2 separate regions of the Homo sapiens genome follow, and region 2 is linked to region 1. The links come from fine-mapping of genetic effects on gene expression. A gene starts in region 1. The other region holds a variant in brackets. All regions are shown on one strand. Distances are between the middles of the regions.

Region 1 (17,442 bases):
ATAAAATTTCCATGCAGGAAATCAGGCAAGAAATGGCTAAATACCTTTCAATGAAAGCAAGTGCCTCCTTCAGCATGAGGGAAGCTACTTTCTCCTCTTTCATTGGCTGCTGGATAATTTCATGGTTCCTCATAAGGATGCAATTCCAACGTCGAGTAAATCCATAACTAGAGTACCAGGAAGTGAAAAACAGAAAGGCGAGGAGAGCAAAGACAAAGATGACCTTCCATGGCACTGAGAACCAGCGGGCGAACTTGGGAATGAGAAGCAGAAAAGGAACCAGGGCAAGGGCTACCGTGGAGATCCACAGTTTGATCCTGAGCCAGCGGTGCAGTTCTGGTGTCTTGGATGCCTGGCAGTCGCTTAAAAGTCCAAAAGGCACCCCGTAAAAGTAGTGAAAACCATGGTTGAGCGGGTGGTAACAGTGATCATTCCGAGAGGCGCAGCTCAAACCCAGGTGCCATTTGCCTAAAAGTAAAATAAAATCGTACCATGGCAGCATGGCAGCATTCAATGCCGGTCTGTTTCTAGAATGTGGGCTTCCCTTTGGAAAAGTCAAATATAACTTTCATTCTGTTGTCATCATGGTTTTTTCTTGATATCCCCAAATACCTCCCTGGTATAGACATGCCACCAACAGCCTTCTCCCTACAATATGCCTCTTTCAGACAAAAGCCATGCAGCAGGAGCCTCTTTGCTTGCGACAAGGAGAGGAGCCTAGTGTTCATTCAGAAGAAACCTTTTGCTTGGTACCAAACAACCTCATGAACAATGAGAAACTTTCCAGGTATCTGGAGCTTGCTAGGAGGGCAGAATCGATGTCTTGGTTGTTTGGTGGGGACAATACCAAGGACTTTCAGTGCACCTTGCACATTCATGCTTTTATCTAGCAGTGCCTTCCGACCCTCTTATTCCATCTCACTGAAAGGTAACCGAGATTTTATGTATAGATGGAACACCTCTTCTAGGTCCTCAAGCTAGGGATGACAAAGTAGCCAAAGAATTTCATCAAGAACCAAACGATTCTGATAATGCAAGTAATTCCTTTTATCAAGCACATACTCTAGGGGGCCAGGTCACGTTCTGATTTGTCCGCACACATTATTATATTCAACACTTCCCAGACCCTTTATTATGAATAAAAAACACATTGTCTAGATTATTTTTTTAAGAGACAGAGTCTTGCTCTGTTGCCCAGGCTGGAGCGCAGTGGCATGATTATAGCTCACTGTAGCCTCGAACTCCTTGGCTCAAGCAATTCTCCTGCCTCAGCCTCCTGAGTAGCTGGGACTATAGGTGCGTGCCACCATGCCCAGCTAATTTTAACATTTTATTTTTGTAGATCCAGGGTCTTGCTATGGTGGCCTAGGCTGGTCTTGAACTCCTGGCCTTCTTCTGCCTCAGCCTCCCAAAGTGCTGGGATTACAGGTCTGAGCCACTGTGCCCAGCTATCTAGATTTATTCAGAAGCCTGAGTCACATTAATGAATAATAGCAGAGTCAGATCTGAATCCCGTGCTCTAATGATGTAAGAACGCTGCTCAAAGCTAATCTAGAGAATTCCCACTCACAGGACGCTGCTGGGAGTTGCATGGGAATACATGCCCTACTGATAGAAAATTTCTTAACCTTTTTTTTAACTGGGGATATCTCGGAGCTGTGGCTTACAATTCACATTAGGAATCCTCAAAAATAGTGGACCGTACAATGCTTTTGAGTAGCATTTCCCAAAAGGATTTGATCACACAAGTTATTCTTAGAGGACTATCTTCTAGGACTGGAATTCTACAAACTTATTTTTCGGTGAAAGGCTCCCTCACAAGCTCATGTCCCCCCGCCCCAAACCCCCACCCCCGCCAAAAGGGCATAGAATATTAAGTGATCTAAGTCGACCAGCAATTGCCTCCATTTGACAACTCTTAATGCTGTAAGTTTCCCATTTCAACAGTACTTCTCTACAAATTTACTGGTTTTTCTGCTAATAATGGTGTCACAAACATCGTATCCCTCCAACACAACATTCCATTTTAGTGGCAACTTTGGATACACTTGTTTGCTTTCTGTTCTCATTGTTTTTCCAATACTATGCCCTCGATTCTACACATGCTCAATCAATGTGTGATCATTTCCTTCTCCAAGTGTCTTATCTCAAAGAGAAGTCGGTCAAACTGGCGCGCACAAAGCCAACATCCCCGGAAACACCTTAGACACGATGACAGAGAGGCTGCAGGATCACGTTTCCACGGGCAGAGTTCCGGCGCCATACCTATGAGTCCCGTGCGGTAGCCACGGTGCTGCAGCAGCTTGGCAAAAGTCGTTTCATTGGTGGGAAGACCACCTGACCCACCAAGCCACGTGAAGGCACGGTTCAGGTTGTAGGCAGACACCATCCCTAAATTCACAGAAGTCAATAAGTTAGCACCATAGTCTTTGCTAATACCGAATTTATCCCGACATGCTTAAAGTCCTCTCCTCCCGCACCTCCTCAAAGCCATTCTTCCCCAAGTTTTCTGTTGCTTTCTGGCTGTACGTCCTTGACCCTCCTTTTTTCACTTGCTAAATGCAAACATTCCCTTGGAATTAGGGTTGCCAGAATAAATACGGGACACTTAGTTATATCCATTTGAATTTCAGACTAACAACAAATAACCTTCGTTAGTTTTTCATATAGAGGCTGCTAACCTTCAATGTTTCAATAGTATCTGAGGACACTACTGCATTTTAGCTGGGTATAAATACATTTTTAAAAGTATCCTTGAGAATCTGAAATGAAGAAGTGTAGGAGTGACAATTTCTTTTTCATATGTGTGTGTGTGTATATACACATACATATATATATTATATATATATATATATATATATATATATATTTTTTTTTTTTTTTTTTTTTTTTTTTTTGAGATGGAGTTTCACTCTGTCACCCAGGCTGGAGTGCAGTGTCAACATCTCGGCTCACTGCAACCTCCGCCTCCCAGGTTCAAGCAATTCTCGTGCCTCCGCCTCCCTAGCTGGAATTACAGATGTGTGCCACCACACCTGGCTATTTTTTGTGTGTGTGTTTTTAGTAGAGACGAGGTTTCACTATGTTGGCCGGGCTGGTCTCTAACTCCTGACCTCACGTGATCCACCCACCTCAGCCTCCCAAAGTGTTGGGATTAAAGATGTGAGCCACCGTGCCTGGCCTCCATATAATTTTATGTAGATTTATACTGGTGGACAATATTATACACCTATAGTTTAAAAGGAATTCACAAGAAAACCACAAGTGAAGATCAGCAAGAAATAAATAAATGATAATTTCAGGCCGGGCTCAGTGGCTTACGCCTGTAATCCCAGTGTTTTGGGAGGCCAAAGTGGTTGGATCACCTGAGATCAGGAGACCGGCCTGGCTAATATGGTGAAACCCTGTCTCTACTAAAAATACAAAAATTAGCTGGGCTTGGTGGCAGGCACCTGTAATCCCAGCTACTCAGGAGGCTGAGGCAGGAGAATCACTTGAACCTGGGAGGCAGAGGTTGCAATGAGCTGAGATCATGCCATTGCACTCCAGCCTGGGTGACAAGAAGGAAACTCCATCTCAAAAGAAAAAAGTATATTTCAAGGATCCTACCTTGGAAGAAGAAGAAAGTAGACTCTAGATAGTGTCATTGATAGGAAAGAGAAACAGTTTTATTAAGGGAAGCATTAGACCATTATCTTGCTGTTGAACTGTTTTGCTGAAATTTTTGATAAGTAGAATGAATTAAACTGAACCGTTTGTGTCAAATGATTAAAAATATACACATGGCAATGACTTGAAATCTCTCCACCAATCACCTAATTTTTTTCTTAATTTTTAAAAATAAATTTTATTTCACCATAATCAATACTTAAAATTCCCTGAAATTAGGCAGAGCATGGTGGCTCACTCCTGTAATCCCAACACTTTGGGTGGCCAAGGCAGGTGGATCACACATGAGGCCAGGAATTCAAGACCAGCCTGGCCAACATGGTGAAATCCCATCTCTACTAAAAATACAAAAATTAGCCGGGTGTGGTGGTGCATGACTGTAATCCCAGCTATTCAGGAACTGAGGCAGGAGAATCACTTGAACCAGGGAGGCAGAGATTGCAGTGAGCTGAGATCAGACCCTTGCACTCCAGCCTGGATGACAGAGCAAGAGTCTGTCTCAAAAAAAAAAAAAAAGAAAGAAAGAAAAAAAGAAAAAATCCTGAAATCCTGAAATTATAAGTGTAGTTTTTTTTGGAAACTCATACAAATTCATATCTTTATCCCTCTTCATACACGGTACTGTGTTATATAGAGACTGCTTATCTAGAAACCAAACTATTTTGAACAAAATGGAGAACCTTGAATTATGAAAGAAGGTCATTAGGCAACAAAAAAAGATAATAATAAATCAATATTTATGGGACAAAAACTTTTAATGTTTACTCTTAATTTTAGTATAATTCTCATTAACCTAATTAGTTCATTCCTTGAATGTATTGGATGAGAATCTACTACTTAGGAGGAAGAAAATTCATACAGAAAAATTTTTCACTGAAAAATTAAACTGTGAAGGCAGGTATACTAAAATTATGACAAGCAAATACTAGAATTAAACAAAATGCAACAGCATGACACGATATTTCACATAGAGTCTGATAACCATGAACACTTCAATAGTGTCTAAGGGCACCACTATATTTTAGCTGGGTATAAAAATTGTTGTTCATAATATTGATCTTGAGTGGATGTTTGTAGGTATTGATCCTAAGCTAAGCAGCAAAGGAACACATTTAATTGTCGTTATATCAACTTGGTAAGTCTAAATCTTGAAATGATGGGGTCAAGTAAGGGAGTATGTAAAAGTTTCATTTCCTTTTTGTTTTCTCAGTTATACCTTTTTTCCCAACTGTGTCTAGTTTTCCAATCTCATCCACAGAGGTGGATTTGATCCACTTATCTCAGAACCACTGCATGGTCTCTGCTAGCTTAAAGACATCAGGGGTCTCTTGAGAAATCTTAGCACAAGTACCTGAAAATGGGAGTGTTGACCATAAGTTGGCAAATTGCCCCCAAGAGGCCTAAACCCTGTCGCTATATGCACAGAGATGAGCAGGTGCAGTGGTACCTGGTGAGAGGCACACATATTTAAGCTGCCCAGGGATAACAACCACCTTTGAATTTAGATCCCTAATACTCTGAGTGACCTTTTGAGAATTCTTATAAAGATTTGCAAAAACTAATCATTAGAATGCATTCTGGTGAGACTGAAATGTTGCTGCCTTTTTATTGCCTCACCTGATCTGATGGGGTACCGGCCGGTCAGGAAGGCAGCCCGACTTGGGGTGCACATGGAAGCAGCTGCGAGATGCTGGGTAAGCCTCACTCCTTCACTTGCCAGGCGGTCAATATTAGGTGTGCTGCAGACCAAAGAAGAATTCAGCAGGTGAGTTTCTAAAAATTCTCAATACAATGATCAAGGATCAAAGCTATTCTATTTTGGGTCAAGTTGACTCTATTTCTGGTAAACCTAAAATCCATCTTTTTAAAACTTTAATCTGTCTATTTCCTTATATGCATTGATGGTTAGAAGCAAATGGAAACATAAGTTTAAAATATATCTTTAGTCAAAACTATTACAAATGAATACAGGTCACTCGGTATACAGTTTTATGAGTCTGAGAAAAAAATGTATTTCAATGGAAAAATTAGCCAATTTCTTCTTATCAAGGACCTAAAATTAATGGGTAATTTAGATTAAGTAAAATTTTAATGTGTTTCATATTTTTTTAAGAGACAGTCTCTTGCTCTGTTGCCCAGGGTGGAGTGTAGTGGTGCAGTTATAGCTCACTGCAACCTTAAATTCCCTGGGCTCAAGTGATCCTCCCACCTCAGCCTCTCAAGTAGCTAGGTCCACAGGTGTGCGCTACCATGCCCTACTAATTTATTTAAATTTGTATTTAATTTAATTTTTTTTCTGAGACGTGGTCTCACTCTATTACCCAGGCTGGAGTACAGTGGTGCGATCCCAGCTCACTGCAACCTCTGCCTCCCAATTCAAGTGATCCTCCTGCCTCAGCCTCCTGACTAGCTGGGATTACAGGCATGAGCCACCACGCCCAGTGGTATATTTTTAGTAGAGATGAGGTGTCACCATGTTGGCCAAGCTAGTCTTGAACTCCTGACCTCAAGTGATCCACTTTCCCCAGCCTCCCAAACTGCTGGGATTGCAGGTGTGATCCACCACACCTGGCCTTAAAATTTTATGCAGAGATACATGTCTTGCTATTTTGCCCAGGCTGGTCTCAAACTCCTGGCTTCAAATGATCCTCCCACTTCAGCCTCCCATTAATATATATCTTACGGTAAAATTGACCTATTTTATGACCAAATTGTGACATTTTGGAGTTTAATTTATTTCCCATTTTGTTTGTCTAATACATTGCAAAAATTTTGTAAAACTTATAGGTTAAAAAAAAGACGTGCCTGTTCTCCTAAAAGCTAAACCATATCCAATCTTGATCCCATGGGTACAACATTTTTTTTCCATAATCCCACAGAAAGATGATAATGGAGGCTGAGTGTGATGGCTCACGCCTGTAACCCCAGCACTTTGGGAGGCCAAGAGGGGCTGAACACTTGAGCTCAGACCAGGGTGGGCAATATGGCAAAACCCCACCTCTACAAAAACAAAAAACAAAAAAAAAACAAAACAAAAGAAAAACCACAAAAATTAGGCAGGTGTGGGGGCTCATGCCTATAGTCCCAGCTACTCAGGAGGCTGAGGAGGGAGGATCACTTGAGCCTGGGAGGTCAAGGCTGCAGTGAGCCAAGATCATGCCACTGCACTCCAGTCTGGATGACAGAATGAGATCCTGTCTTAAAAATAAAAGGAAAAAAAAGAGATAGAGGAAAGAAAGGAAAAGAAAAAGGGAAGAAAGAAAGAAAGAAAGAAAGAAAGAAAGAAAGAAAGAAAGAAAGAAAGAAAGAAAGAAAGAAAATAAGAAGAAGAAGACCAATGCCTTTCAATCAACAAATATATGCTTAAGATATAGGACTAGACTGTGATCTGCATTCCAAGAAGAAACAATGTTATTTAAATCCACACTAAAAGATGCTATGTATTTTTACAAGAGCCAGATTGGTCTATCGATAGAGAGTAGAGAAATAAAGAGCCCCGGGTACCAGAGACTTTAGAAGTAATTCAAGGAAGATATTTTTAAAACTGTAGACTAATGTGGTGTATGTATATAATGAAAAAGTATTCAGCCATGGAAAGGAATGAAGTGCTGACGCATGCTACAATATGAATGAACCTTGAAAACATCACGCTAAGTGAAAGAAGCCAGTCACCAAACACCACTTACCATATGTTATGAGCTAAATTGTGTCCCTCCCAAATTCCTGTGCTGAAGTCCTAACCCCCAGGACCTCAGAATGTGACTGTATTTGAAGATGGAGTCTTTATAGAGGTGATTAAGGTAGCATGAGGTCGTTAAAGTGGACCCTTATCCAATAGGACTGGGGTCTTTATAAGAAGAGGAAATGAGGACACAGACACACACAGAGGGATGACCCTGTGAGGACACAGGGAGAAGACGGCATCTCCAAGCCCAGGAGAGAGGCCTCAGGAGGAACCAGCCCTGCAGACACCTTGATCTCAGACTTCCAGCCTCCAGGACTGTGGGAGAATCAATGTCTGTTGTTTCTAAGCCACCCAGTCTATGGTATTCTTTTATAGCAGCCTGAAATAGACTAAGACACCTCATAAGAAGAAGAGATGAGGACACAGACCCACACAGAGGGACGACCCTGTGAAGACACAGGGAGAAGACGGCATCTACAAGGACAGGAGAGAGGCCTCAGGAGGAACCAGCCCTGCCCACACTTTGATCTTGAACTTCCAGCCTCCAGGACTGTGAGAGAATAAGCTGATGTTATCTAAGCCAACCAGTCTGTGGACCTTTGTCACGGCAGCCTGAGAAAATAAATACTTTATATGATTACTTGTATATGAAATTCTAAGAAGAGACACATCCATAGAGACAGAGGGTACATTTGTGGTTAACAGGGCATGGGGATAGGATGGGAAATGGGGGTCTTCTTTGTGGGGGTGACGGTTGTCCAACACTGTGAATGTACCAAATGCCACTGAATTGTTCACTTTAAAATGGTTAAAAGGTGATTTTTTTTTTTTTTTTTAAACAGAGTCTCCCTCTGTCACCCAGGCTGGAGTGCAGTGGTGGGATCATAGCTCACTGCAGCCTCAATCTCCCTTGCTCAGGCAATCCTCCTGCCCCAGCCTCCTGAGTAGCTGAGACCACAGACACACGCCACCATGTCCCAGTAGATTTTTTTTTTTATTATTTTTGTAGAGACGGGGTCTCCCTGTGTTGCCCAGGCTGATCGCAAACTCCTGGGCTCAAGCAATGCTCCCACCTTGGCCTTCCAAAGTGCTGGGATTATAGGCTTGAGCCGCCATGCCTGATCAAAAAAGGCCAATTTTTAAATGTAAATTTTGCCCAACAATGAAAACGCCACCACCAACAGCTAGAATCTAAGGAAACTGGGAGGTTAAGTGGTCTCCTGACATTTTGCAATTTTCCCCAGTGACCTCTGCTATTCCTGCCGATAACATCAGACAATGACTTCTCTCCAGAAACCCTTCTCTGCAACGGCAAAGACGTGAACACTGTGGTAAGGGAGACTCCCACATACAGGGAGGGGGTCAGAGTCCATCTTTACCTCACTGAGTTATTACCGTAGCAGCACAAATCCCCCACTCCAAGGTCATCTGCCATCAGCAGGACAATGTTGGGTCTGGCGTTTCTTGTCATAAATGTGCCATCAACACCGCAAAACAAACAGCACAGGGACACTGACAGCCAGCAGCTCCTGAAAGCATTTTTAGAAATAAGCAAACAAACAAGCAAGCAAAAAACCAGGCACTATCAATTAACATTTGCATTTTAGATAACTTAACATATGAAACAGTGATATTCGTTATCAGTTCTCACTGTACAACGTACCTGTGTTGTCTTACTCAGAAACTAGATTAAACAACAACAACAAAAACTAATGTTCTATACCGGGGTCCCCAATCCCCTGGCCATGGACCAGTACTGGTCCGTAGCCTGTTAGCAACCAGGCCACACAGCAGGAGGTGAGTGGTGGGCAAATGAGTGAAGCTTCATCTGTATTGACAGCCGCTCCCCATTGCTTGCATCACTGCCTGAGCTCCACCTCCTGTCAGATCGGTAGCAGCATTAGATTCTCATAGGAGCGAGAACTCTATTGTGAACTGTGCATGCAAAGGATCTAGGTTGTGTGCTCTTTATGAGAATCTAATGCCTGATGATCTGTCTCTGTCTTCCATCACCCCCAGATGGGATCATCTAGTCACAGGAAAACAAGCTTAGGGCACCCACTGATCATACACTACGATGAGTTGTATAATTATTTCATTATATATTATCGTGTAATAATAATAAAAATAAAGTGCACAATAAATGTAATGTGCTTGAATCATCCTGAAACCATCCTGCACCCCCTTCCTGTCTGTGGAAAAACCGTCTTCCACAAAACCAGACCCTGGTGCCAAAAATGTTGGAGACCATTGTTCTATACGAATATGGCATCATATTTTACCAATTCATTTTGCAAGCATGATGAGGTTTAACTCTTATAACATCTTTTGATATTGTTTTAGTGACATCAGAGGCTTAAAATTTATAACAGGGGTTACAGTTGAGGGTAAGCTCTAAAAATTGAATTTTGCCGGGTGCTGTGACTCATGCCTGTAATCCCAGCACTTTGGAAGGCCAATGCGGGTGGATCATTTGAGCCCAGAAGTTTGAGACTGGCCTGGGCAGCATGGTGAAACCCCATCTCTACAAACAATACAAAAATAGCTGGGCATAGTGATGCATTCCTATAATCCCAGCTACTCAGGAGGCTGAGATGAGAGGATTGCTTGAGCCTGAGAGGTCAGGATTGCAGTGAGCTATGAATGCACCACTGCACTCCAGCTTAGACAATAGAGCAAGACCCTATCTCAAAAAAAACTTTTTTGTTTACTTTATTGAATAAAAATGTAACCAAGGCCGGGCACAGTGGCTCATGCCTGTAATCCCAGTGCTTTGAGAGGCCAAGGCAAGTGGAATACCTGAGGTCAGGAGTTTGAGACCAGCCTGACAAACATGGTGAAACCCCATCTCTACTAAAAATACAAAATTAACCGGGCATGGTGACACGCGCCTGTGGTCCCAGCTACTTCAGAGGCTGAGGCAGGAGAATCACTTGAACCCAGGAGGCGGAGGTTGCAGTGAGCTGAAATTGCACCACTGCACTCCAGCCTGGGTAGCAAGAGTGAGACTCCGTCTCAAAAAAAAAAAAAAAGTAATACCATCTGCTCGGGAGGCTGAAGCAGGGATAATTGCCTGAACCTGAGAGGCGGAGGTTGCAGCGAGCCAAGATCGCGCCACTGCACTGCAGCCTGGGCAACAGAGAGAGACTCTGTCTCAAAAAATAATAATAATTGTTCATATTTATGAGGCTTATAGGGGTGTGTGTGTGTGTGTGTGTATGTGTGTGTGGCACCATGCCCAGCTGATTTTTGTATTTTTTTTGGTAGAGATGGCGTTTCGCCATGTTGGCCGGGCATGTCTTGAACTCCTGACCTCAGGTGATCCTCCCACCTCGGCCTCCTGAAGTGCTGAGAGGTGTGAGCCATCGTGCCCAGCCTATAAACAATTATTATTTGTCAATTAAAAATAAAAACTTTTAAAGTTTCCTTTTTAGAAAAGAAACTTTCCAAGGTTTAACTCTGTCAGTATTCACGTATTCTTTTTTTTTTTTTTTTTTTTTTGAAGCTGAGTGATAGAGCTTTAGGGTTTTTGTTTTTTTTTTTTGAGACAGAGTCTCGCTCTGTCACCCAGGCTGGAGTGCAGTGGCGCAGTCTCGGCTCACTGCAAGCTCTGCCTCCCGAGTTCACGCCATTCTCCTGCCTCAGCCTCCCGAGTAGCTGGGACTACAGGCGCCCGCCACCACGCCCAGCTAGTTTTTTGTATTTTTAGTAGAGACGGGGTTTCACCACATTGGCCGGGATGGTCTTGATCTCCTGACCTCGTGATCCACCTGCCTCGGCCTCCCAAGGTGCTGGGATTACAGGCGTGAGCCACCGCGCCTGGCTGATAGAGCTTTATTAAACTATTCTCTCTCTCAAAAAAAAAAAAAAAAAAAAAGTAAGCAAAATGGAAAATCAGAGACTAAGAGCGAGTCAGTTTTGATTTTTCAAGTGTTCAGTTGTACTTTTTAATACATTTTATAACCTCAAAGGTTTTCTCTAAGCCACATGGAGCGGGGTGGGGGCAATTATAACAGAAGCTCCAGTAACTTATTAGATCTAAGCCCAGAACTAGATGCTGAAACACTGATATTTGGGGATGGAACACATGTGTGTATAGAAACTGTTTTCTCCTTTGGTTCATCAAGAACATATGTCCATAGAAGAAATCAGGTGGAAAAAATTCCACTTCAAAAACAATCTAGAAATCATTTAAAATCTATGAAAGAAAATTTAACATTTTTGAGATTCTGCTAAATTTTTTTTGTCAATTAGTTCAATGAAAGGCAGATTTTACTAAATTTTATTTTATTTTTCAATGGGTCAATGTTGGAATAGATCTACTAAGTTTTATTTATTTATTTATTTATTTATGTATTTTTTGAGACGGAGTCTCTCACTCTGTCACCTAGGCTGGAGTGCAATGGCGCGATCTCAGCTTACCGTACCCTCTGCCTCCCAGGTTCAAGCGATCCTCCCACCTCAGCCTCCTGAGTAGCTGGGACTACAGGTGTGCACCACCATGCCTGGCTAATTTTTGTATTTTTAGTAGAGATGGGGTTCGCCATGTTGGCCAAGCTGGTCTCAAACTCCTGACCTCAGGTGATCCACCTGCCTCGGCCTCCCAAAGTGCTGGGATTACAGGTGTGAGCCGCCACGCCCGGCCTAAATTTTAGATTGTAAAAGAACCCTCTTGTAACAGCTGAATTGTACAATATCCTGAAATATTCACAACAGCCATTGATCAAAAATGATCACTATGAATTGAAGACCAATATCCCCTCAGTCAGGTTCCCCAACTCCAAATTCCATTCAATCAATTCCAAGTCCTCCTAATTCAACCTCAAATATTATATCATAAATCCTTTTGTATCCATCCATCTTCCCTTCTATTTCATGTTTATATTTTTATTTTAAAAACTTTTTAAATTGAGATGGGGGTCTCACTAGGTTGGCCAGGTTGGTCTTGAACTCCTGAGCTCAAGCAATCCTCCCACCTCAGCCTCCCAAAGTGCTGGGATTACAGGTGTGAGGCACAGTGTCTGACCTATTTCTTTTTTAAATATTAATAGTAGTTATTTTATTAAATCTCAAGCTCATGTTTTTTTTTAAATAGACTTATTTTTTAGAGCAGTTTTAGGTTCACAGAAAAATTGAGCATAGGTACAGAAAGTTCCCACATATCCCCTGCCCCTACATATGTAATAGCTTCCTCCATTATCAACACCCGGCAACAAGATGGTACATTATCTGATACAATCAATGAACCTACATTGAGAAATCATTATCTCCCAAAGTCCATAGTTTAATTTAAGGGTCACTCTTGCTGTTGTACATTCTATGGTTTTGGACAAAAAGTCCCAGCCTACTATTAAGAGGGTTTAAGGATGAGGATAGGGAGATGATACATTGAAAGATATCTTGGCTAAGAATTTTTCAGGATTGAAGACAGACATAAGTTTTCAGACTGAACCCAGTTAAAAAAATTAAAAACCTCCAGTTAGACCTAGCTCAGTAAAGGGCAATGATGGAGACAGAGGCACTTGGTTTAAACACAACCACAGATAACCTAAAATGGGAGGATAACTGGAATGTCAAGAGACTTCCCAACAGCCACAGTGGATGCCTGATGACCAGGGACCATTGCTTCCAGAGTGCTGAGACAAAAGTCACTCTGAACTCAGAGTTCCAAACCCTTCTAATACATCATTGAAGAATGAATAGGGATTACAGGCATTTGGATTGTACATGAACCCAAAAACTCTTGATGAAAATCTACTAAGGAATATTTTCAGCAAAAGGCAAACTTATCTTAGAAAGAAAGAGTAGACAGGCCAAGTGCAGTGGCTCATGCCTGTAATTCCAACACTTTGGTAGGCCGAGGCAGGTGGATCACTTGAGGTTGGATGTTGGAGACCAGCCTGGCCAACATAGTGAAACCCCTTGTCTACTAAAAATACAAACATTAGCCAGGCATGGTGGCATGTGCCTGTAATCCCAGCTACTAGAGAGGCTGAAGCAAGAGAATCGCTTGAACCTGGGAGGTGGAGGTTGCAGTGAGCTGAGATCACACAACTATACTCCAGCCTGGGTGACAGAGCAAGACTCTGTCTCAAAAATAAATAAATAAAAATAAAAGGGTAGACATAAGAAAAGATGTTGAAAAGAGATAAAACATGTTGATAACATTAAATACGCATTGACAGAAACTATTATTAATTATTATTATTTTGGAAAGGAGTAAATAATTCACTAAGCGGTAATTACATGGAGGAAGGTGGGGCGGGGGGGGTAGGACTGTAGTGTTCAAACATTCTCCAGTCTTTCCTTTCTTCAAAAGGAAGCTGGAAATAGAGATTAACCATCATATTTTGGTAAGTTAATAATGATGTTAATATGATTAAGGGAAACATGAGGTACAGTTACCAGGCCACTTGAGGGGAGAAGGATGGGCCAGTGTATTAGTCTGCTCTCACACTGCTAATAAAGACATACCTGAGACTGGGTAATTTTTTTTTTTTTTTTTTTGAGACAGAGTCTCTCTCTGTTGCCCAGGCTGGACTGCAGTGGCACGATCTCAGCTCACTGCAAGCTCCACCTCCCAGGTTCACACCATTCTCCTGTGCCTCAGCTTCCCGAGTAGCTGAGACCACAGGCGCCCACCACTACGCCCGGCTAATTTTTTGTATTTTTGGTAGAGATGGGGTTTCACCGTGTTAGCCAGGATGGTCTCGATCTCCTGACCTCGTGATCTGCCCACCTCGGCCTCCCAAAGTGCTGGGATTACAGGTGGGAGGGAAAGAGGTTTAATAGACTCAGTTCCACATGGCTGAGGAGGCCTCACAATCATGGTGGAAAGCAAAGGAGAAGCAAAGGCACATCTTACATGGAGGCAGACAAGAGAGCTTGTGCAGGGGAACTCCGATTTATAAAACCATCAGATCTCATGAGACTCATTCACTATCATGAGAACAGTGTGGGGGAAACCACTGCCATGATTCAATTATCTCCACTGGGCTCCTCCCTTGACACGTGGGGATTATTACAATTCAACCTGAGATTTGGGTGGGGTCACAGCCAAACCATATCAGCCAGGAAACAGAGAACCCTTAATGCAGCCCGTAAAAAGCAAGAGGGGAAAAAAGAAAACCACAGGAGAATCTTGAAAATATAAGATAGCATGTAAGATGACAGAAATAAGATCAACTATCTTAATATTTATAACAAATGTGGGTGGGTTTACCTGCCTATTAAAGAATCCCATACTAATTTTTAAAAATCTGTCCTATGTCTTTCTTAAAGGACACACCTAAAACCTAATGACAAACAAAACTTGAAACTAAAAAGATGTAAACATCTAAGTAGGCCAGCCAAGTAGTAATCAAAAGAAACTTGTAACAATAATAACATCAGCCAGAAGAAAATTACAATTGAAAAATCATTAATATAGAATGGCAAGACTATTATAGAATAATAAAAATACAAATCCACAAAGATGATATGAACATCATAAACCAGTGTGAATTTAGTTATGGCTTGAAAATATAGACAGTAGGCTGGGCATAGCAGCTCATGCCTCTAATTCCAGCACTTAGGGAGGCCGAGATGGGAGGATCCCTTGAGTCCAGGAGTTTGAGACCAGCCTGGGCAACATAGTGAGACCCAATCTCTATAAAAAAGAAAAAAATTACATAAATAAATAAAAGACAAAAAATAGAAAGCACAGCTTGAATAAAATATGAGGAATAATTGATAATCCACCCTCATAAAGGACATTTTAAGCACATATTTAACCCAAGTCCTCCAGGATAGAGAAAACCTTGACAAAGAATCCTTCTCTCTAGAAATGGAGAGTGATGAATGTTCGTGAATTTGCCAGCTCACCAGTCATACAGCAATTGCTTCATGGCTTCTTCTTAGATTATCTAAGGAAGAGAAGAATAAAATAAGAGCATCTGCAAAGCAAATGTTTTCCTCATAGCTAGGCAGATAATGGTCCAAAGGCTTAACTAGATTGTTTTGTGGTGACCCAGTAAACCCAGTACATTCTTTTTTTTTTTTTTTTTTTTTGAGACAGAGTCTTGTTCTATCGCCCAGGGTGTAGTGCAGCGACTCGACTCACCGCAACCTCTGCCTCCCAGATTCTAGCAATTCTCATGCTTCAGCCATCCAAATAGCTGGGACCACAGGTGTGCACCACCATGCCCGGCTAATTTTTTGTATTTTTAGTAGAGACAGGGTTTCACCATGTTGGCCAAGCTGGTCTTGAACCCCTGTCCTCAAGTGATCCACACGCCTCGGCCTCCCAAAGTGCTATGATTACAGGTGTGAGCCACTGTGCCTGGCCAGCCCAGCACATTCTTTAAACGTATTTGCAAATAAGTGATATTTGCTCACAAAGAATAAGGCAAAATTCTATGCATGGTCTATGCAGCTCAGGTTAATTCTAATGGCAGAGTTACAAGAAATTACGTTGGTATAGCAACAAAAACCTACTATTCTGGTGTCAGTAAAGTAAATCAGTAATCAATGAATGTGCATATATTCAATAACTGCTTTGTATCAGATCTAATTTATGTGTGGTACTGTTCTGGAAAGCACTTTGTTTTTACACATACTGGATCAACTGTGGTATCTACCTTAAAAAGCACAACAAGAAACACCATAGACCTGTGATAGTCATGGAGGCCAGACTTGTTTGGTGGAGGAAGACATGTTTAGCAGCTGTAATTAAGATATTTTTACAAGAATGCAACCAGTGGTACAATCTGGTGTTTCCCTGCCTAGAATCCTCAAGTGATTCCAAGTTGGTGAGGCTTTATAGGCTGAGGAACTGCCCCACAAGACAAATAATATATAATAAAGATTAATAGCACCGCCATAATGTTAGCAGAGCTTTATAATTCCCCAGGCATTTCCACACACTTGTTACTATTTGATCCTCAAAATATCTCACCCCGCTTGCCTCAAAGGGTTAATGATGACTCTTCCGTTTTCTAGGAGAAGCAATTGGGTTTCATATCGCTTAAAAGACTTTCACAAGGCTGGTAAATTGAAGAGCTGGGATTCAAAATAAGGACTGATTCTCAGGAGTCTGTGTGTGTGTGTGTGTGTGTGTGTGTGTGTGTGTGTGTGTAAATTAGCCAATTCCCCAGGCCATCTTCTCAACTTCAACCCTCCAATATGGCTCTCAAATGTAATATCCTTAAAGACTAACTACCTTGGGGCATTTGGTGAAGCCCACGTTCTAACCGTTTAGTGGTCCATTTTCTCTACCCCACAACTTCCAATTAATACCTCTATATTAGACTTGCCCACAATGTGACATTTAAAAAATATCACATTCTGGTTCTCATGTCTGTAACTCCACTGCCTAATATACTATTTAGTATTCCCATAAAGTTCACACCGAGAAAATCCAGAGTTTCCCAATAGTTAGGTGAGACAGAGACAGAAACATGGATGAATTGAGAATATCGTCTTTTTATTCACCATATTTAGCCATTTCCACCCTCCTTTAATAAGCATCTCTCCAGGACAAGATTAGTAAGGATCACCATGAATGGTCCTAGCCACCAGTGCAATGTTCTCTCCAACTAGCAAGGAATCAAGGTTATTTTTATTTATTTATTTATTCATTTAGAGACAGGGTCTCACTCTGCTGCCCGTAGCCATGACTGTAATGTGAGATTAAAATAGCAAAGATGTGGAATCAACCCAAATGTTCATCAATGATAGACTGGATTAAAAAGTGTGTACTTATACACCATGGAATACTATGCAGCCGTAAAAAGGAAAGAGATCATGTCCTTTGCAGGGACATGGATAGAGCTGGAAGCCATTATCTTCAGCAAACTAACACAAGAACAGAAAACCAAACACCCCATGTTCTCACTTATAAGTGGGAGCTGAACAATGAGAACACATGGACACAGGGAGGGGAGCACCACACACTGGGGCCTGTTGGGGGGTAAGAGTAGGGGGAGGGAGAGCATTAGGATAAATAGCTAATGTATGCTGGGCTTAATACCTAGGTGGTGGGTTGACAAGTGCAGCAAACCACCATGGCACACGTTTACCTATGTGACAAACCTGCACATGCTGCACAT
Region 2 (14,925 bases), 18 kb before region 1:
CACTCTGTCGCCCAGGCTGGAGTGCAGTGGCAACATCTCAGCTCACTGCAACCTCTGCCTCCTGGGTTCAAGTGATTCTCCCACCTCAGCCTCCCGAGTAGCTGGATTTACAGGCATGTGCCACCATGCCTGGCTGCAGAGATCAATTTTAGATAGAAAATATAAGCATTCCCCAGCCTCTGGTAAATGAGGATTATACCGAAGTCTACTGGTGGGGTCTTGCAGAGAAGCTGTGCTTTCCTACTAAAATAGGATCAAATCATCTAACTGGATTCTTTACCGCCTTTGGTTTTTTCCCTCCTTACTGCATGGAGTGCAGGTGTGATGCTTGGAGGAACTGCAGCCACTTTGCAACCATGAGGTGAGATGCACAAGAATGAAAGCTAGCATGTCAGAGGTGGCCAAGTAGAAAAAAAGAACCCTGGTCCCATGACCGTGGCACTGAGCACTGTGTCAGCCCCATGCTCCCAACTTCTGAAATTATGATGAGAAAAAATAATAACAAAAAATTCTACTGTATAATCCTCTATAGTTAAATTTGGGAGGCTTGTGCTGTTTACGGGGCTGTTTTATTTATCATTGATCATGTCCTGCACTCATATAGAATCTTAAAAACATAGATTTTTATTTACTTATTTTTGTTTTTTTAATTGTTTTATGTGGGACTATCCACATCAAAATGAAGATACATCACACCACAAGTGACTGATCCCATCAGAGAAAATTCCTCCTGCAAATAAAGTTAAATCCAACCAAGTAAGAATTCTGGAATTTCATGCAATGACTCCAAAAGACCTTTCTTTACAGGTCTAAGGCAAACGATGCTATTTGTTAATTTATATTTGTTTGCATGACTTCCATAGCACGAATGTGGGACAGAAACAATCACTAGGATGTTAGAAAGGAAGGAAGGTGGAGATAAGCAACCACCCGGCAGGTCATGTTGAAGAATTTACTCCTCGTTGCTAGAATAATTACTTCAGTCATCCCTAAGCTGTGGGTATTCATAGTCTCTCTTTCTCTCTTGTTCTCTCTCTCATGTATACATTCACACAAGCTAATGCATACTTACACACACACATTAATCATGTTGTCTTAATTTTCTGTATCCTATAATGTTTTGACTTTTTTTTTTTTTTGAGACAGTGTCTCACTTTGTTGCCCAGGCTGGAGTACAGTGGCACGATCATTGCCAACTGCAGCCTCAAACTTCCCACTCAGCCTCCTGAGTAGCTGGACTACAGTTGTATGCCACCATACCTGGCTAATTCTTTTTTTTTTCTTTGTAGGGACAGGGTCTTGCAATGTTGCCCAGGCTGATATCAAACTCCTGGGCTCAAATAATCCTCCTACCTTGGCCTCCTGAAGTGCTGAGATTACAACTGTGAGCCACTGTGCCAGGCTAGTATTTTGACAGCTTGAGGGGCCTCATAGACTTGGGGAAAGACTGCTCCTCCCAGGACTAGCTGATTCCTAAAAATAGCGATATGGTTTGGCTCTGTCCCCACCCTAATCTCACCTTGAGTTGTAATAATCCCCATATGTCAAGGGCAGAGCCAAGTGGAGATAATTGAATATGGGGGCAGTTTCTGCCATACTGTTCCCATGGTAAGGAATAAGTCTCACGAGATCTGATGGTTTTATAAGGCATTTCCCTTTTCGCTTGGCTCTCATTCTCTCTTGCTTTCCACCATGTAAGATGTGCCTTCCACCATGATTGTGAGGCCTCCCCAGCCATGTGGAACTGTGAGTCCATTAAACCACTTTTTCCTTTATAAATTACCCAGTCTTGAGTATGTCTTTATTAGCAACGTGAGAATGGACTAATACAAATAGTAACAACTCACTTAGGAACACACCCTACCTATGCAAGCATCCACCTCCTTTATCTAACTCTCACACAGTAAGCTGATATTTTCTCTGTCCTAAATCAACCCAGCACCGGGTACCAGGCAGCTAGGGGCAGTCTCTGTTGCTCCAAACTTACTGTAATTACTCAAACTACCAGTGTGAAGCTGTTCACCCTGCCCTGCCTGACCTTTCCCTTGGAAAGCCTAATAATAAAGGCTGTTGCTTGGGCTCCTCATTCCTTCCTGCCTCTGCTTCCAAGCCAAGCCCTGGTGCTTCCCACCGTGAACCTGTGTGGTAGGGCATATCCCCTTCTCTCGGGAAATCTAAGTCATGAAAATATTGCAATGGCATTGGTTTGTCTGTGTCAGCACTCACCTCCCTAAGTTAAAATGCTTTGAGTGGATCGGCTGTGGTGGGTCACACCTGTGGGAGGCCAAAGAGAGAGGATCACTTGAGCTCAGCAGTTCGAGACCAGCCTGGGCCACATAGTAAGATCTTGTCTCTATTTTATAAATATTTTAAAAATTTAAAATAAAACCCTTTGGGCACAAATCTCTCTCACAAACACATCTCTCTAAAATCCTACTGCAGGCCAGGCACGGTGGCTCACGCCTGTAATCCCAGCACTTTGGGAGGCTGAGGTGGGCAGATCGCCTGAGGTCAGGAGTTCGAGACCAGCCTGGCCAACATGGTGAAACCCCATCTCTACTAAAAATACAAAAATTAACTAGTCATGGTGGTAGGTGCCTGTAGTCCCAGTTACTCAGGAGGCTGAGGCAGGAGACTCACTTGAACCTGGGAGGTGGAGGTTGTGGTGAGCCGAGATTGCGCCACTGTACTCCAACCTGGGTGACAGAGTGAGACCCTATCTCAAAATAAAATAAAATAAAATAAAATCCTACTGCAGTGCACTGTTTATGTGGCTTTCTCAGCGAAAAAGAACCATCATAGCTGGGCAATATCTGCACATGGTGCAGCTTCCGCCAGGAGACGAAGGAGACCGGAACCGGGCCCTTATCGTCTTTCCACGTGTCCACAGCCTTCATACTTACAGTCCTTCTGATGCCACCTGACCGTGTGCAGATAGACCCCACAGTAGTGGAAGAGGAACTCGTGGTCGGAGTGGGACGCCCTTCCTTCCAGCAGGGGCATTAGGTTCTGGCCGTCAATCACTCTTGGGAGAGAAGGGGGTGTGTAGAAGGTGATGAGAGAGGCATGGTTCAGTCACGCATTTTATAGCAGAAGAAAGAGGAGGAGGAGGAGGAGGAGGAAAAGGAAGGGGAGGAAGAGAAGGAGGCGAAAGATAAAGAGGAAGAATTTCTTTTTTCTTTTTTTTTTTTTTTGAAATGGAGTCTTGCTCTGTCACCCAGGCTGGAGTGCAATGGTGCGATCTCTGCTCACTGCAACCTCCGCCTCCCGGGTTCAAGCAATTCTCCTGCCTCAGCTTCCCAAGTAGCTGGGATTACAGGCACACGCCACCATGCCCTGCTAATTTTTGTATTTTTAGTACAGACGGGGTTTCACCATGTTGGCCAGGCTGGTCTCGAACTCCTGACCTCATGATCCGCCTGCCTCGGCCTCCCAAAGTGCTAGGATTACAGGCGTGAGCCACGGCGCCTGGCGGAAGAAGGAATTCTTAAAACTTTCTCCTTTTCCCTCATTTTATAACAAAAAGAAAGAGAAACAAAACATTCATTTTCTGAGGTCATGGAAGAAGAGAACAGCTAGAACTATTATCCTGATACCTTGCAAGACAATATGAGTTACTGTTGTGGATTGGAAAAATTAAGCTATTTACGCCCTTTTGATTCCAATAAAACTTCACATTTAATGAATAGATATCACCCCACATACATGGAATTAAATCGTTAAAGCACAGGATGTATTTGTTCATTTTAAAGCTCATAGACAAAGCCAGGCCTGGTGGCTCGTGCCTGTAATCCCAGCACTTTGGGAGGCCGAGGTGGGTGGATCACGAGGTCAAGAGATCGAGACCATCCTGGCCAACATGCTGAAACCCCATCTCTACTAAAAATACAAAAATTAGCTGAGCATGGTGGCGCCCGCCTGTAGTCCCAGCTACTCAGGAGGCTGAGGCAGAAGAATCACTTGAACCCGGGACGCAGAGATTGCACTGAGCCGAGATCACACCACTGCATTCCAGCCTGGCTGACAGGACGAGACTCTGTCTCAAAAAAAATAAATTTAAATTAAATTAAAAATAAGCTCATAGACAAAGTGCAAACCAGAAAGAATAATATCATTTAGCACACATGCAATTACACATACGTGTTTTGTTTTCGTTTTTGTTTTTGTTTGAAACAGGGCATCACCCTGTCACCCAGGCTGGAGTGCAGTGACGAGATCTCGGCTCACTGCAATCTCTACCTCCTGGGTTCAAGCGATCCTCCCACCTCAGCCTCCCAGGTAGCTGGGATTACAGGCACGTGCCACCACACCAGACTGATTTTTGTATTTTTAGTAGAGATGGGGGTTTCACCATGTTGGCCAGGCTGGTCTCGAACTCCTGACTTCAAGTGATCCGCCAGCCTTGACCTCCCAAAGTGCTAGGATTACAGGCACGAGCCACCGCACCTGCTCTAGGCATACATGTTTTTATTCAGTAATCATTTAACACTTAATTGCATAATGGTCTAGAAGCTGTGAGGGATGTGATGATGTATGAGAATCAGATCCCATCCATGAGAACAGTCAAACACACACAGGCATAAGTGTAATATGACAAAGGATATTAAGGTATACTCTAAGAAGAAAACAAAATATTCCACCACGCACCAAGGGGAGAAAGACATCTGGCCCTATGGGCAGAATATTGATAATTAAGTAATATACTATGTACATACACACACACATAGAATTATCAAGTATATCCACTTATGTTCAAATATATCACCCTAGGTTAGGAGCAAACACTGTTTCCATACCTGTCCTGGGACAAGATCCCTCCGCCTATATAAGACAGCGTCGGATAGATGTCCATTAAGCTGGTGGGCTCATTGATCACTCTCCCAGCCTCCAAGACTGACGGCCACCGGAATATCCCTGGCACACGGATACCTCCTTCCCATCCTCCCATTCCTTTGCCACCTAAAACCAAAGATTACGACACAACCAAAGATGAGTTAAAACCCAACCATATTGGCCGGGCACGGTGGCTCACGCCTGTAATCCCAGCACTTTGGGGGGCCGAGGTGGGCGGATCACTTGAGGTCAGGAGTTCAAGACCAGCCTGGCCAACATGGTGAAACCCCGTCTCTGCTAAAAATACAAAACCATTAGCTGGGCATGGTGGTGGGCGCCTGTAATCCAAGCTACGTGGGAGGCTGAGGCAGGAGAATCGCTTAAACCCAGGAGGCGAAGGTTGTGGTGAGCCGAGATCACGCCACTGCACTCCATGGTGGTGCATGCCTGTAGTCCCACCTACTCGGGAGGCTGAAGTCGGGGGATCAGAGACGAGGAAGTGGAGATTGCAGTGAGCTGAGATTGTGCCACTGCACTCCAGCCTCGGTGACAGGGTGAGACTCTGTCTCCAAAAAATAAAAAAGAAAAAGAAAAAGAAAAGAAAAATACAGGTTTTATCCACATTATAATGATCCTTGAGGAACAAGCTAAAAAACTTTACCCCGTGATTTCCCATATAGAGGAAGAAAGAGAGGAGTGTGAGTAGAAAAATGGCCAGAGGCAGAGTTGAGAATCACTTCTTAGACAAAAGTCCCCTTGGGTGTTTCTGAGCACAAAACAAAAATGAAGCCCTTGCCGTAAGATCAATCATGAGACTGAGG[C/T]GGTTGTTACAGAATAGAAAAATGGCCCTATGCCAAATGCCAGTGTCAAGACCATATGTCTAGACTCTTTAAGAAAAAATAGGAACCTCTCTGGAGGAAAAGGTCTCTTCCTATGTGAAATTTTCATTGAATGTCTTCTACGTGCGCACCTGTCTGACAGGCAGCATTACAAAGAAACACAAAACCGGAAGCCTCTAGCAGAAAATGAGGTAAAATTCACTGCTGACACATTCACTGATCTAACCAGTCTAACCAGTGTTGAAAGGCAGCTCAGCTTCTTGGCACCATTCTTTTTTTATTTTTATTTTTTTTAATTAAGACACTGTCTCCTTCTGTCACCCAGACTGGAGTGCAGTGGCGCAATCATAGCTCACTGCAGCTTCCAACTCCTGGGCTCAAGCGAGCCTCCCTCCTGAGCCTCCCAAGTAGCACCATTCTTTATTATAAGAAAAACTCGACAAGCTCACTGAACCAAATCTATGTGCTTTTAACATACAATCATAAAGCCATCCTGATGTTTTCTTCATCGTATTTAATAACCTGTATCTTTGTGGGGCAGAGCTGCGAGGTGTAACTAGACTAGAACAAAACCCATTGCTTACCCAGGAGATCTAAATCTCTCTATCCATTGAATTCATCGCTTCACAGGAAGCACCCTGAGAAACAGGCATCCTGTCCCAAAGCCTGAGAAATGCTCACAACAATTTTGCCAGTCCTATTCCAGGGTTATGTGTGCTTTTTAAGGACAGGGGCTTTACACTCACACATACTCATGCAATTATAATAATTATTATAATATATAATAGGTACAGTTGTTAGAATCATCATGACTGTAATAATCACACTTCGTTAGATGGCATATATATGGTGACTCAGATCTGTTCCTCACTTTTTCTACTAGGTTTAGCACCAATTTAGTCTTTGCTAATTAACAGTTATGACTACAGCAAGTCCACATGACAAGCCAGAGGAGGTGAATGCTTTCAGGAGCTCACTTCTATTAATTTACAATATATAATCCAGTATCCACAATCCTATATATATACAATGAATATAGTGAATATATATATAGGATTATGTGTAATATATAATGAATATAGTGAGTACATATAGTGAATATGTGTAGGGTTATGTATACTCTATACAGTGAATATATAGAATTCTATATACTATATATAATTAATATGTGACTATAGACATAGTAAATATATATAGTATTATATATTATATTATATATACTGAATATATAAAATTATATATAATGATCTATACAATAAATATAGTAAATATATAGAATTATGTGTGTATATATAATGAATATAATGACTATATATACATAGTGAATGTGTACAGGATTATGTATATTATATGTAGTAAATATGTAAAATTACATGTATTATATATAATGAATATAGCGAATATATATAGGATTATATGTGTTATGTGTAATGAATATAGTAACTATATATACATAGTGACTATATATAGGATTATATATCACATATGATGAATATATATGATTCTATATTATATTACATACAATTAATACGGTGAATTTATATACATAGTGATTATACCTCCAGGAAAATACATATATAAGACACACACACACAGAACTTTTTAATGAAATATAAGGAAGTTCAAACATTCTGATTTTATAATGATGACGATTTTGATACCCTTTTAGTTTTTTTGTTTTACTTGGAAGGTTAGCGGGTAGGGGGAAAATAGCGAATGCAGAATTCTTTTTTAAATTATTCTTTCTGTTGGCATGCCTTTGGTGATGCCTAAGAGTGGGTGCCATGGAGTTCTTGAACAACCCGGCATGAAGTCTATCAAAGTGAGCTGGAAGAATCTGCTGGCCATGAGGAGCTAGGCACCCCAGTCAAATGAAAAACTCTTTTTTCTGATCCACATAACACTAGTTAAAGCATAATGAATAGCATCATTGGTGTGATTGAATTAAAAACCTGCATCTGAGAATCCAAGTGAGGATTAATCTAAAGGAGCACTTCTCACTTAGAAATGACCTTGTCCCCAGGGGACACTGGGCAATATCAGGAGACATTTCTGGTTGTTGCTGCTCTGCGGTGGGTGCTACTGGCATGTGTGGGTGGAGCCCACAGACGCTGTTCAACACCTACAACGGCACAGGATGCCCCCAGCCAGAGAATCCTCCAGCCTCAAATGTCAATCGTGCGGAGGCTGGGACATCTGCCACAGATGGTCATTGAGATGCTGTGCTGTCTCCTGGGGTTGGCGTTGCTTCAAACATTTTACTTTGAAGCTCTTGGAAACTGCCCCAAAATTTGCAGCTTTTTTTTTTTTTCGGTCTAGCTTAATAAGAGTCTAACTCACATCAAAATATCTGAACATCATGGCAAATGAATTCAAGCAAACACAAAGCCAATAGAGACTACTGATTTAAAATGGACAGGCGTTGGTTCTCTACACACAATCACCTTTGTAGATCCCGTTCCAGCCACCCAGCTGAACAGCCCCGTCCAGGGGCTCCAGGTGGCCCCCGTTGTCAGAGGTGAAGTACACCAAGGTGTGGTTGGCCAGGCGCTCCTGGTCCAGGGCATCCAGGATTTTACCTGGAGAGGGTCAGAGACACAAAGACGTTGACCTCTTGATGCAGATCACCACTGCTTTATTACATATCTGCTACTATGTATTTATTACACATAGCGTTTCAATGTTATTCTGCACTACACGATATTGTATAATTAATCATATAATATTGTAATACATACTATTTTAAACTGTACGTAATATAGTGTATATAATATATATTATATCCAGCAGTTAAAATATTTAATATATAATGTAATAATGTATAATATATGCTATATTTACTATAATACATACTTTTATACATTTGAATTACTAATTATATATTTATTATATATTGTATGATATATAGTACATATTTCTTACAAATACATATTAATATATAACATGATGTATTAAAAATGCATAAAGAATTGTTATATATTAAAATATAATCAATTATGGAATAGAACAAAATATATTGTAATATGTACAATCAATACATACTATGTATTATTATACCATATGACTTTACAATACTAGAAACATATCATTATATAATAGTTTATCATTGTGTAAAAATTGTTATGTAATTATATAATAACATGTAACTATTATTTTATTATATAGTATTTTGTATATCAATGCAATATGTAAAAATATATGTTTATTGACATAGGAAAATATATTAACTATAAGATAAAATATGAGTATATGTAATAAATGTATAATATATAATGAACATATTAAATTTTATAATATATGTCTAATTAATATATTAAATTTTATCATAAATTTATATCTTTATATAAATATATACTATATTATTTTATATAATTGAATGATATGTGTCACATATTACTTTAATTAATTTTATTATATTAATGTAATTATATAAATTATATTAAATATACTAGATACATTAATTATATTAATTTAAAATGTAGAATAGTTCATATACAATATATAAAGTACTGGTTTATTATACAATTTTATTGTATAATGTGTTCATTATTTTATTATTGAATATATAATAAAATCTATTTTATTATACAAATCGTGTAATAATACATAAGGTCATCATTGCCCCAAACGATTCAAATAGACAGTGCCAAGAAGGCCCAGCAGTTAAATAAACCGATGAACATTAATTTAAAAAAATACAGTTTGCAAAATGACACCTCCAGGAACATATGAGCAAAGCCATCCCCGTACTCCAGGGCACAGCACCACCTCCCTTAGAGACTTGCTGTCCTGGCTGCTATCTGAAGTCTACATGGAAATTGCAGGTTATTCTTGCTGTTTGGGTTATGGTTAAGATCTAATGACAATTAATGCTGCGCTAGACTCAGCAGACACTGTCTTTAATGTGTTGACAATCCCTCAGGAGGACAGTTTTTTAAAATAATAAGTAGAAAGCTGTTCTAGCAAAATTCCAAACAACATTCATTTCCTTTCTGATGTCTGTTGAGCATTTGCTAATCAACAGATAACATCGTCCTGGGCCTGAGGTCACACTGCATTTCTAGTTTACACTAGATCATCTCTGTGCTATGCTCTTGTCCCATTCAAAGATAAAAGAAAATGTAACTAGCTTAACTAGCTGCACAGAAAACTGTTTATACGTAAACTCAGTGATTTGTTTTAGAAGTGACATATACTATTTTTTAGAAATGCTATAATTAGAAATTAAGATATTTTAAAGCCCAGGGTTTGTAAGATGAAAGATTGTAAAGGCTTTCTGGGAACAGCATAATTATATGTAAATTATCAATTCACATTAGATCTGGCTATAGTATAAAAAAATCATAAAAGTGATTTGTAATTTATACTGTGCAAATATAGTAGCTGCAAATTCTTTTTCTGTTCCAGAACAAATATATTTGCAAATAATTGTCTGTATAGTGTCTAAAGTGAAAACACACAGATGCATATGAATATATAAATACTAATGGTAATAGGTCACTTATAAGACCTCCTACCAAAGACACCTGGAAAGAAACCAATAATGAAAAGTGATTAAGGTTGGGCCTGGTGGCTCACACATGTAATCCCAGGACTTTGGGAGGCCGAGGTGGGAAGTTTGCTTGAGCCCAAGAGTTCGAGACCAGCCTGGGCAAGATGGCAAAACTCCACTACAAAACACACAGAGACACACACACACACACACACACACACACACAAATTGGCCAGACATGGTGGTGCACATTTTTAGTCCCAGCTACTCACGAGGCTGAGGTGGGAGGATCACCTGAGCCGAGGAGGTCAAGTGTGTGGTGAGCTGTGATCGCACCACTGCATTCCAGCCAGACTGGGCAAAAGAGTGAGACCCTGTGTCTTAAAAAAAAAAAAAAAAAGGACTAAAAGTGTTTTTTAATAGGCACAAGTTTCTTTCATTGGAAAGTTTAAAATGTTACTGAATTCCCGAAGATTCATTAAGTTCATTTTGCACGTTGTATTTGCATTTGCATGAGTATAGCATTGTTATGGCTTATTTTTGAGTAAAGTTAATAAGTTACTAAACCTTTGAGTTTTATACTCATATTGTTAAATAGTAAAATAATACCCACAGAGATACCTGTCTGACTTTCAATATGTCTTTATTTTGGTAGAATTTTTATAAGAAATGACGGAGAAAACTCAGAATATTTGGGAGATGTTACGCAGAAAAATAGCTACTCATCATTTCTCCTGTGTCAAATAATATTAGCCATTTAATAATGCAATTGCTAGCTTTTGTAACACGTCTTCATCATGTATTTACATATACTGTAAAACAAACATAATTATTTCTTAGTGATAAACACTCAGATATAGACTTTAACAGAAAATCCCTTTACGGGAAACTGTCCTTTGACTAAGTACAACTATAGTAAGCGATTTCAAAAGAAGCAGAGAAAAAAAAAAAATCCCAATTATATAATTCCATAAAGGCTACAGTGTTATAGCTATTTTTAACTGTAACACCTTTCAGTGTTTGTATTTCGTTACCAAGGAATTAAACTATATATAATAAATGTGTATATATGCAACATACAGTGCTATGTGTGTATATGTATAAAACATAACTTGTGTATACATATAAACCATATGGGGTGTGTGTATATATATATGTATATAACATATGGTGTGTGTGTGTATATAGCTTAATTCATATTAAATCTGACTATAGTATTATGCATAAAAGTGATTTGTAATTTATACCGTGCAAATAAAATAACTGCAGCTGGGTGTGTATATATATACACACACATACACATCCCACAGCAAAGATTAAATTAAGAAATACAGAGCTTAGCTTTAGTTCAGCAAGCTTCAAAAGGGTTTGGATGTCAGGGTTAGTTCCCTTTAACTAAGCCCATAAGTTTTTCCCTTTAACACATTCCTTTTTTCTCCCCATTTCTGCTTAAATGCCTTACTGGCAGCCTGGCAGCACTGACTTTCCTTGTATTCTTTTTTTTTTTTTTTTTTTTTTTGAGACTGAGTCTGGCTCTGTCGCCCAGGCTGGAGTGCAGTGGCACAATCTCGGCTCACTGCAAGCTCCGCCTCCCAGGTTCACGCCATTCTCCTGCCTCAGCCTCCGGAGTAGCTGGGACTACAGGCGCCCGCCACCGCGCCCGGCTCATTTTTTCTATTTTTAGTAGAGACGGGGTTTCACCGTGTTAGCCAGGATGGTCTCGATCTCCTGACTTTGTGATCCGCCCGCCTCGGCCTCCCAAAGTGCTGGGATTACAGGCGTGAGCCACCGCACTCGGCCTCTTTTTTTTTTTTTTTTTTTTTTTTTTTTTTTGAGACGGGGTCTTGGAGTACAGTGGTGCAATCTCGGCTCACTGCTACCCCCACCTCCCAGGTTCAAGTGATCCACCCACCTCAGCCTCCTAGGTAGCTGGAACTACAAGGCGTGCGTGTGACACCATGCCTGGCTAATGTTTGTATTTTTTTGTAGAGATGGAGCCTTGGTATGTTGCCCAGGCTGGTCTCAAACTCATGGGATCAAGTGATCCTCCCGCCTGAACCTCCAAAAGTGCTGGGGCTACAGACATGAGCCACCACGCCTGGCCCCTCTCTGTATTCTATCTCCTCTTTGGGATTAAATATAGACAGTAAATGTTACAATGGTACCTATAATTAGAGGTAAACACACATAGTGGAAATATACAAGAGAAATTTATCCCATGACAAGATTCCCCTCTTTGTCCTATCCGACACCACTAGTTCTTCAGTAATTTTAACTAGTATTTTATAGCTCACTTAGATGGTGGTTTTCAGAGAAAAGAAAGTTATTTATAATAAAATGTGATTGATTAACACCCCTTAAATGCATTTAAATTAAAATAGCTCTGTTTCTTTCAAAGGCACTCCATATAAGTCAACAGAGGCGGCTGATAACTGGGAGATTGTTCGTTTCAATGGTTCGGCAGAGCACCGTTTTCAGAAGTTTGCACTCAGAAGAAGAAGAAAAGTACTGTATTCCAAAATGAAACACCATCGCTGAGAGGAAGGACAACTCTGTCACGTACATAGAGGCGGGGGTGGGCAAATGCAATTCAACTAGCACAGCTATTTATTATTCTGGAATGCATACAGTAACTCTTCCCACCTGCTCATTTATTATCCTTAGCATTTCTTTATAGTGAACACTATGCCTTTGAAATAAGTTGCTTTAGTTGTGTTAAATCCCCATCCCAATTTTCTATGTATTTCCTGTAGAACTGACTAATCAGAATAACGTTCCCTTTTATATCCATCAAAATAATTGGGAATTGAAATTACAATATTCTTTTTTTTTTTTTTTTTTTTGAAACAGAATCTCGCTGTGTCACTCAGGCTGGAGTGCAGTGGTCTCATCTTGGCTGACTGCAACCTCTGCATCCTGGATCCAAGTGATTCTCCTGCCTCACCCTCCCGAGCAGCTGGGACTACAGGCCCGCATAACCATGCCTGGCTAATTTTTGTATTTTCAGTAGAGATGGGGTTTCACCATGTTGGCCAGGCTGGTCTAGAACTCCTGACCTCAAGTGATCTGCCAGCCTTGGCCTTTCAAAGTGCTGGGATTACAGGTGTGAGCCACTGCGTGCCCGGCCAGGAATTACAATATACTTTACAGTGCAGCTTTCTTTATCTTGCCAATGAGTTTTTCAGAAAAGTGGCTGTCTTTATTTTAAAGATGGGAAAACTTGTATTTACAAACTGTGACTTATCTTGGGGAATATATTTCACTGGTATTGCTGAACAATTAAAAGCCAGCTTTTAATCCAATTAAGGGATGAAACAGATACTTTTCAGGTATCTATGCTATGCAAGGGGCTGGACATAATTTGAGACAGTTAGTACAGATTTGTTTTTCTGTAGCCCGTACTTCAGATATTTACAGTTCTGTTACTGAATACTTACCCACCATCCAATCCATTTCTTCTACATTGTCCCCATACCTGCCATATTTACTGCGCCCAACAAACTTCTTTTTGGAGATGAGTGGAGTATGTACGTGCAGGAAGGAAAAAAAGAGGAGAAAAGGTTCCCTTTTGTACCTAAGGGGTAGAAAGTTACCAAAATTACCTTCACAAATATGAAGTCATTTCCATCATTTAAATGCGATTCTGCACTGATGAAAAGATCTCATAATAGCTGGCGGAGGTTTTCTATGTACTTTAGATGACAATACCACTCCTGTGAGTCGTAAATACCACAAGATTTATGTTGAAAGGATATGAGGAGGAATGAAGGATAACAGAACATTTGTGTTCCCAGTAAAATGTTTCATGTAGCCAGGCACAGTGGCTCATGCCTATATTCTTTGCACTTTGGGAGGCTGAGGCAGGAGCATTGCATGAGCCCAGGAGTGTGAGACCAGCCCAGGCAACATGGCAAGACCTCGTCTCTACAGAAAATACAAAAATATAGCTGTGCTTAATGGCACACCTGTGATCCCAGCTACTCAGGAGGCTGAGGCAAGGGGTTCGCTTGAGCCTGGGAGGTGGAGGCTGCCGTGAGCTATTATCACACCACTGCACTCCAGCCTGGGCAACGCAGTGAGACCCTGTCTTAACAACAACAACAAAAATGTTTAACGCAGTTCATTTTATACTCTCTTGTGTCCAGTTTAGCATCTGACATAAAGTAGCAGCTTAATAAATCTTTTAATCTTTGTTGAATGGGTTAAAAAGTATGAATTCTCCTCATCTATTGTTTCAAAGTGTTCTTTTAGGTATGAGTTCAGAAGAATCATATCTTAAGGACAGACTCAGATGTGCCACAGTAAGGATTTGATGCTCCTTACTCTCCATTTTCCCTTCTTTCTTTCTTCCACCTCCTTCATGGTTCCTGGAACATAAGTCTGATGGCTGGAGCTTTGGCATCTACCTTGGGCCATGAGGCTGCTCACAAAGGATGGCAGAGAACAAGATAACCTCACTGTATCTGTAGCCTGCCTACCCCAAGAGAGAAATAAATTCCCCTCATTTACATCTTGCTTTTTGTGTTCTGCATTTTATGTATTTATTTATTTTGAGACAAAGTCTCACTCTGTTGCCCAGGCTGGAGTGCAGTGGTGCAATCATGGCTCAACCTCCTGGGCTCAAGTGATTCTTCCACCTTATCCTTCCAAGGAGCTGAGACCACAGGTACACGCCACCAAGCCTGGCTAATTTTGTACATTTTTTGTAGAGATGGGAGCTCACTATATTGCCCAGTCTGGTGTCAAACTCCTGGGCTGAAG

Direction of the effects. Positions count from the first base shown, and alleles are read on the strand shown. Sizes are in standard deviations (SD) of each study's normalised expression.
For the expression in esophagus mucosa of the gene that starts at base 8,892 in region 1, C is the high allele of the variant in region 2 and T is the other (moderate effect, 0.67 SD a copy in GTEx).

What was found. PIP is the estimated chance that this variant, and not a neighbour inherited with it, causes the effect. A credible set is the group of variants that fine-mapping cannot tell apart.
Region 2: its variant is the best candidate, but not a certain one, in a credible set for the expression of ARSH in esophagus mucosa (GTEx, PIP 0.74).

The regions. Positions count from the first base shown.
Region 1 is chrX:2,997,996-3,015,437 of GRCh38, reverse strand. It overlaps ARSH (arylsulfatase family member H), which reads right to left and starts at 8,892. Exons shown (of 9, transcript NM_001011719.2): 1 at 8,734-8,892; 2 at 5,287-5,408; 3 at 2,266-2,391; 4 at 45-468. The coding sequence starts at 8,825.
Region 2 is chrX:3,017,347-3,032,271 of GRCh38, reverse strand. ARSH (arylsulfatase family member H) reads right to left here. Exons shown (of 9, transcript NM_001011719.2): 5 at 13,602-13,738; 6 at 8,117-8,251; 7 at 4,797-4,959; 8 at 2,904-3,025. Among named protein-coding and RNA genes, the nearest start is that of ARSF, 17 kb to the left of the region's middle. The variant C/T (reference allele first, on the strand shown) is at 5,655.